2 linked regions of the Homo sapiens genome follow. The protein of the gene in region 2 interacts with the protein of the main gene of each other region in a pairwise test. Each region holds a gene or a part of one and is shown on either strand. Other genes may lie near its edges.

Region 1 (3,500 bases), on a different chromosome or scaffold from region 2:
GATCAACTGAGGTCAGGAGTTTGGGACCAGTATGGCCAACATGGTGAAACCCTGTCTCTACTAAAAATACAAAAATTAGCTGGGTGTGGTGGTGTGCGTTTGTAATCCCAGGAGGGATTACTCAGGAGGCTGAGGCAGGATAATCGCTTGATTATGGGAGGCAGAGGTTGCAGTGAGCCGAGATCGCCCCACTGCACTCCAGCCTGGGCAACAGAGTGAGACACCATTAAAAAAAAAAAAAAAAAAAAAAAAAAAAAAAGTACATAAAGGAAATGACAAGGGAAGTTTCACTAAAAAAAAAAAAAAAAAAAAGTGAGCCAAACACAAAAGAAGCAGTAATGCAGGAAATTAGGATCAAAAAAGCTATAAGGCTATAAGACATGGGGAAAACAAAGAGCAAAATGATAGAAGTCTGCCCTTCCTTATCAGTGATTACCTTAAACGTAAATGCCTTAAATGCTCCCAACTTTTAGCTTAAACTCTGCCAAAAGACAAAGATTGGCAGAATGGGTTAAAATAAAAACAACCCATGATCCAACTTTATGATGTCTACAAGAGATTTGCTTTAGATCCAAAGATGTAAATGAGGTGAAAGTGACAGCCTACAAAAAGATATTCCATGCAAATAGCAAGCAAAAAAGAGTAAGAATGGCTACATTAATATCATACAATAGAGATTTTAAATCAAAAAGGGTAACAAGAGATATAAAAGGATATTATATACTAATAAAAGGTTCAGTAGAGCAAGAAGATATAACACTTATAAACACTTATGCACCTAATAATAGACCATCAAAACACATGAGGCAAAAATGGACAGAACTGAAGGGAGAAATGGATAGTTCTACAATAACAGTTAGAGACATCAATACCTGACTCTCAGCAGCGGATAGAACAATCAGAGAGAAGAGAGAAAACAGAGGACCTAAACAACCAACTAGCTCTAACAAATATATAAAGAGCATTCTACCCAACAACAACAGAATGTACATTCCCCTCATGTGTACCAAAAACATTCTCCAGGACAGACCATAAATTAAGCCTCATTTGATTTAGACACACATCATACAAAGTATCTTCTCCAACCACAGTGGGATGAGGTTGGGAACTCTTAATAGAAGGAAACTAAAAAATTTACAAATCTGTAGAAATTAATACAATATTGAAAAACCAATGGGGCCATGAAGAAATCAGAAGGGAAATAAATTGGAGATGCAGTAAAAGCAGTACTAAAGGGGAAATTTATAGCTATAAACATTAAAAAGAAGAAAGATCTCAACTCAACAATCTATTTTTACAACTTAAGGGATTATAAAAAGAGGAACAAACTAAAACCAAAGCTGGCAGGAAAAAAATAATAAAGACTAAAGTCTAGATAAATAAAATAGAGAAGAGAAAAACAATATAAAAAAAAAATCAACAAAACCAAAAGGTGTTTCTTTGAAAAGGTTATCAAAATTGACAAACCTGGCCGGGTGCAGTGGCTCATGCCTGTAATTCCAGCACTTTGGGAAGCTGAGGTGGGTGGATCACCTGAGGTCAGGAGTTCAAGACCAGCCTGGCCAACATGGTGAAACCCCATCTCTACTAAGAATACAAAAATTAGCCAGGTGTGGTGGCATGTGCCTGTAACCCCAGCTAATCGGGAGGCCAAGGCAGGAGAATTGCTTGAATCCAGGAAGTGGAGGTTGCAGTGAGCCAAGATCACACCACTGCACTCTAGCCTGGGTGTCAGAGCAATACTCTGTCTCAAGAAAAAAAAAAAAAAAAAAGACAAACCTTAAAGAAAAGCCCTTGACTTGATGGCTTCACAGATGAATTCTACCAACCATTTAACTAAGAACTAATACTTATCCTTTTCAAATTCTCTCAAAAAACTGTAGCATACACACATCTAAACTCATTCTGTATGGCCAGCATTACCCTGATTCCAAATGACACAAAGATTGTGTAAGAAAATAAAACTACAGACCAATATCCTTGATGATTATTAATGCAAAAACCATCAACCAAACACTAGCAAACTGAATTCAACAGCATATTAAAAGGATTATGCACTACGACCAGATAGAATTTATTCCTGGAATGCAAGGATGGTTCAACAAACAAAAACTGATCAAAGTGGTGGCTTACACCTGTAATCCCAGCTACTTGGTAGGCTGAGGCAGGAGGATCGCTTGCGGCCAGGAGCTTAAGACCAGCCTGTGTAACATAGCAAGACCCCATCTCTAAAAAAATTAAAACGATCATCTCAGCTGATGCACTGAAAGCATTAGACAATATGCAACACTTTTTCGTGGGGAAAACACTCAGAAAACCAGGAATACAGGGAAATTACCTAAACATAATAAAATCCATATGCAAAAAAAAAAACCTACAGCTAAAATTATACTCAACAATGAAAGACTGAAAGATTTTCCTCTAAGATTAAGGACAAGATAAGGATGCTACTTTTAGCACTTCTGTTCAACATAGCAATTAGGCAAGAAAAAGAAAGAAAAGGGACCAAAATGGGAAAGGAGGAGTAAAATTATCCCTGCTCACAGATGATATACATGGAATACCATAAAGATTCCACTGAAAAACTGTTACAACTAATAAGGAAATTCAGCAAATAGGAGAATATAAATACAACATGCAAAAATCAGTTACGTTTCTATACACTAATGGTGAACAATTTGAAAAGTAAACAATTCCACTTATATCAAAAAGAATAAAACATTAAAGATTAACTTAACCAAACAAGTAAAAGCCTTGTACACTAGAAACTACAAAATTTTGCTAAAATGAATTAAATAAAACATTAATAAAATAGATCACATGCCTGCTCATGGACTAGAGTGCTCAATATTGTTAAGATGTCTATACTAGCCAAAGTAATCTATAGAAAGTGCGATACCTATCAAAATCCAAATGACGTTATTTTGCAGAAATAAAAAAATCCATCCTAAAATTCATTTGAAATATCGAGAGACACAGAATAGCTAAAACAATCTTGAAAAGGATGAAAGTTGGAAGACTCACAGTTCGTAATTTCAAAACTTACTGCAAGGCTATAGAAATTAAAACAGTGTGGTACTCCCATAAAGAAAGACATATAGATCAATGGACTAGAAGAGACCCCAGAAATAAACCCTCAAATATCTGGCCAAATGATTTTTGACCAGGAGAAAGAAGACAAATTTTTAACACATGATGCTAGGAAAACTGGATATCTACATGTGAAAGAATGAAGTTGGTCCCTTACCTGACACCACATATAAAAATTAATTCAAAACAGATCAAAGATCTGAATGTAAGTACTAAAACTATAGAAGTCTTAAAGCAAGGAAAAAGCTTCATGACATTGGACTTGTTAATGATTCCTTGGATATGATATAAAAAGCATAGACAATAAAAGTAAAAAAGTAAAACTGAATTCATCAAAATGAGAAACTTGTACATCAAAGGATCCTATCAACACACTAAAAACGTAACCCACAGAATAAGAGAAAACATTT
Region 2 (3,500 bases):
TCAGCCATAATCAATCAACTTTCTAATAAAAAGGGGGAATACTTATGCTCCCTTTCTAATGACCTCAGAATATTTTGTTTCCTCCTCTTAGCGTTACTGAAGGAAATACATATAATCTTCCCCTTACAACTAAAAAAAGTGTGGTACAGGAGGTGGAACAGCAGATCCCAGGTCTCTTGACCCTATCCATTGCTCGTTTCTAAGCTGTAGACTGTTAGTTGGTGTTGGGGGGCAGGGTGTGTTTTGGGAGCAAGCACTATTAAAAAACCCAAAAATATCACTTGAGAATTTTTTTTACGGCAGCCAATTCTTTCTCTAGGTTCTTCATTTTTTCTACTGCATGAGAATGGATGAGAACATTTACAACACTTTACATGAAATTAAAAGCTATTTTATTTCTGACAGCACTCTGTAAAATGTTTAACTGATACCCTTTGTCTGTAATTAAATAATTCACCCGCAAATGACACTGGCCTTTTAGCATTTACCTCTAAATTGGGCACCCTTGTTTTGCACCTGTCACCACAACACCTGGCAAGCACAGGGCTCTACCAACGCAGATGACATGGAGAGATCAGGCGTTTCTCATGTATTTCCACACACTCACACTTCACCAGCTGTCTCTTTCCCATAAACACTTTGCCCAAATCAAACCCCTCCTTCTCCGAAAAGAAAAATACTATCCATGGCAAAATATATATATACACAATTCATGTCTATTATCCATGACAGTAAAGGACTGGGAATGCACAGCTAAATTAAATCCACAGGTAACATATACTTCACTTTGAGAATCCATTTGGACCTCCTCCCCCCACATTTCAATAACAGCTATTCAGAAACAGCAACAATGGTTGGGTGCAGTGGCTCATTCCTGTAATCCCAGCACTTTAGGAGGCCAAGGCAGGTGGATCACTTGAGGCCATGAGTTCGAGACCAGCCTGGCCAAGATGGTAAAACCCTGTCTCTACTAAAGAAAAAATAAAAAAATTAGCTGGGTGTGGTGGCATGCACCTGTAATCCCAGCTACGCAGGAGGCTAAGGCACAAGAATCACTGGAACCCAGGAAGCAGAGATTGCTGTGAGCCTTGATAGCACCACTGCACTACAGCCTGGGCGACAGAGTGAGACTCTGTCTCAAAAAAAAGAAACAGCAACAAAAACAGACAAACTTTTTTCTTCTCCTTCTTTCCTATGACAAAAGTACAATGACCTACTAAAATGACAACAGAAAAAAGGAAGAGAGGTAATGACCTTGTAAAACAAACTCTGAATAAGCATAATTCAGCAATAATTCAGCAGCTTATTAAAGCTACACACACACACACACACACAGTAGAAATTGAGAGCCATTCAATTCCTATATTCAAGACACGCATTCATTCAAATCCATATTGAGTATCTATCACACGGCAGGCACAACTTATGTCTGAGACATCAGTGAGACATCCAAGCACGAGCACCAGGTCTTTTGAGGGGGGAAAGGGTGGTCTAGAGATTAAGATTTGAAAGACATCCACACCCAGGGGTGGATGAAACTATGGCTGTGATTAAGATCAGAAAATCAAGGACAGAACTCTGAGTAAAACCAATATCGAAAGGGTGAGCAGATGAAGACCCAACAAGATGACTAAGAGGAATGGAAAGAAAGTTGGGAGCAGCCATGAAACAGCATCAGAGAAGGAGAGAAAAGAGGGCATTAAAAAAAAAAAACGGTCAGTGTTGAATGCTTCAAGTAAAATTAGGACAGAACGGCATCCACAGGATTTGACAGCACTGAGATCACCAGTGAGCAGTTTTAGCGGCATAAGCAGGGGACAGAGCCCAGGCTAAAGTGTCTGGGGCGTGTGCATGCAGTCAAAATGCTAACAATAAATGGGGACACGCTTTCAAGAAGCTTTAAAGTATGTAATATGTACCACATAAGTATTACATATATTTATATGGATAACATGTAATACAGAAATATCAAAGTATACCTGTATAACACATAACATATAATGTGTAATACATAAACATTATACATAAATATTAACGCATATATAGTAAAAGGCTGAAATACAGGAGAAATAAAGATTTAAGGGTTGGAAGAAATGAGATCCAAAGCACAGATGGACAAAATTAGCCACGGACAGGAATTTGCACTTTTACCACTGGGACAAAAAGGAGGAATGGCTACAAATAGAGGTAATAATAGGAGAGTAATAACAAAAGATGAGAAAAGAAATCAAAGAAGCTTAAAACAAATGGCCTTGATTTTCTCTGTGAAGGCATGCAAGAGTGGAGAAGGGCTTCCAGTTCAAGTCAGTGGACAAAGTCGTGTAAAGAGGCATAAATGAAATATTCATAAAAGCCAACAAGGGCTGGTGGACACCAGCAGACCCAAAGTGTTGATGACTTTTGGAGGTCGTTATTTTGATAACTCTTAGAAGACGGATTGTCAGCTGAATGTGTAAACCATACAAGGATGCCAAATTAAACTTTCATGCACCACTTCTGAATAAATTAAAGTACTAAAGCAAAACAAACAAGGAACAAAGACAGACAACAACGTGGGGTGAGGAACAGGCAGAACTAACCCAAGAGTAAAATGGAGAGAAATTCGAGGGCGACAACAATGCAGCAGCCCTCGAAGCCCATCAGGGCATCCCACAAAGAGTGTGAAGAAGAAGCTAGAAGATCCGAGAGCAAAGAAAGGTGTAGGTTTCTTCTACTCAAAAGAAAGAAGGGGAAACAGAAATGCTAGGAAAAGAAAGCAGCGTACAGTCAGCTACAATACGAAATATTTAAAAACCCAGTATGATTTTGAGTAAATTACAGTTAAAGAACAAAATTCTCAAAACACATTTGTTGAATGGCACAAATATAAAGACCCATCTGAAAGTCCAGCATCTCCTCTGTGATTACACAGTAAATAACACATATATGTGCATTGTTACAAATGCTGTTTGACTACTTTTCCATTTTTAGAACCAACCAACAGAGAGCTCACACAGCTAGTAGAGGGCTCAGAAAAGGAAAGCGGAGTGGGAGTGTGGTGGGGAAGAAAGGGAGAGAACAGCGAGTTAAGATATAGTCTAATACTGGCCAGACATGGTGGCTCATGCCTGTAATCCCAGCACTTTGGCAGGCCAAGGCAGGCAGATCACCTGAAGTCAGGCGTTCAAGACCAGCATGGCCAACATGGTGAAACCCCGTCTCTACTAAAAATACAAAAATTAGCCAGGTGTGGTGGCATGTGCCTGTAATCCCAGCTACTCAGGAGGCTGATGCAGGAGAATCGCTTGAACCTGGGAGGCAGAGGTTGCAGTGAGCTGAGATCGTGCCGCTGCACTCCAGCCTTGGCAACAAAGCGAGACTCCGTTCTCAAAAAAAAAAAAAAAAAAAAAAAGATATAACCTAATACATTCAGAAACAAAAGTTCAAGAATGTTAAAGTAATTTTTTTAAAAGAACAAAAAATAAAAATAAAAATATCTTTGCTTAAAGTTGAGTAAATCA

The links.
Region 1: the proteins of NDEL1 (region 2) and ZNF211 interact in a two-hybrid assay, tested with the Homo sapiens proteins (2 studies listed by BioGRID and IntAct).

Annotation. Positions count from the first base shown.
Region 1 is NC_000019.10:57,636,168-57,639,667, reverse strand, and holds part of ZNF211 (zinc finger protein 211), read right to left. Parts: intron 1-3,500.
Region 2 is NC_000017.11:8,456,384-8,459,883, reverse strand, and holds part of NDEL1 (nuclear distribution protein nudE-like 1), read right to left. Parts: intron 1-3,500. UniProt on the Homo sapiens protein: Required for organization of the cellular microtubule array and microtubule anchoring at the centrosome. May regulate microtubule organization at least in part by targeting the microtubule severing protein KATNA1 to the centrosome.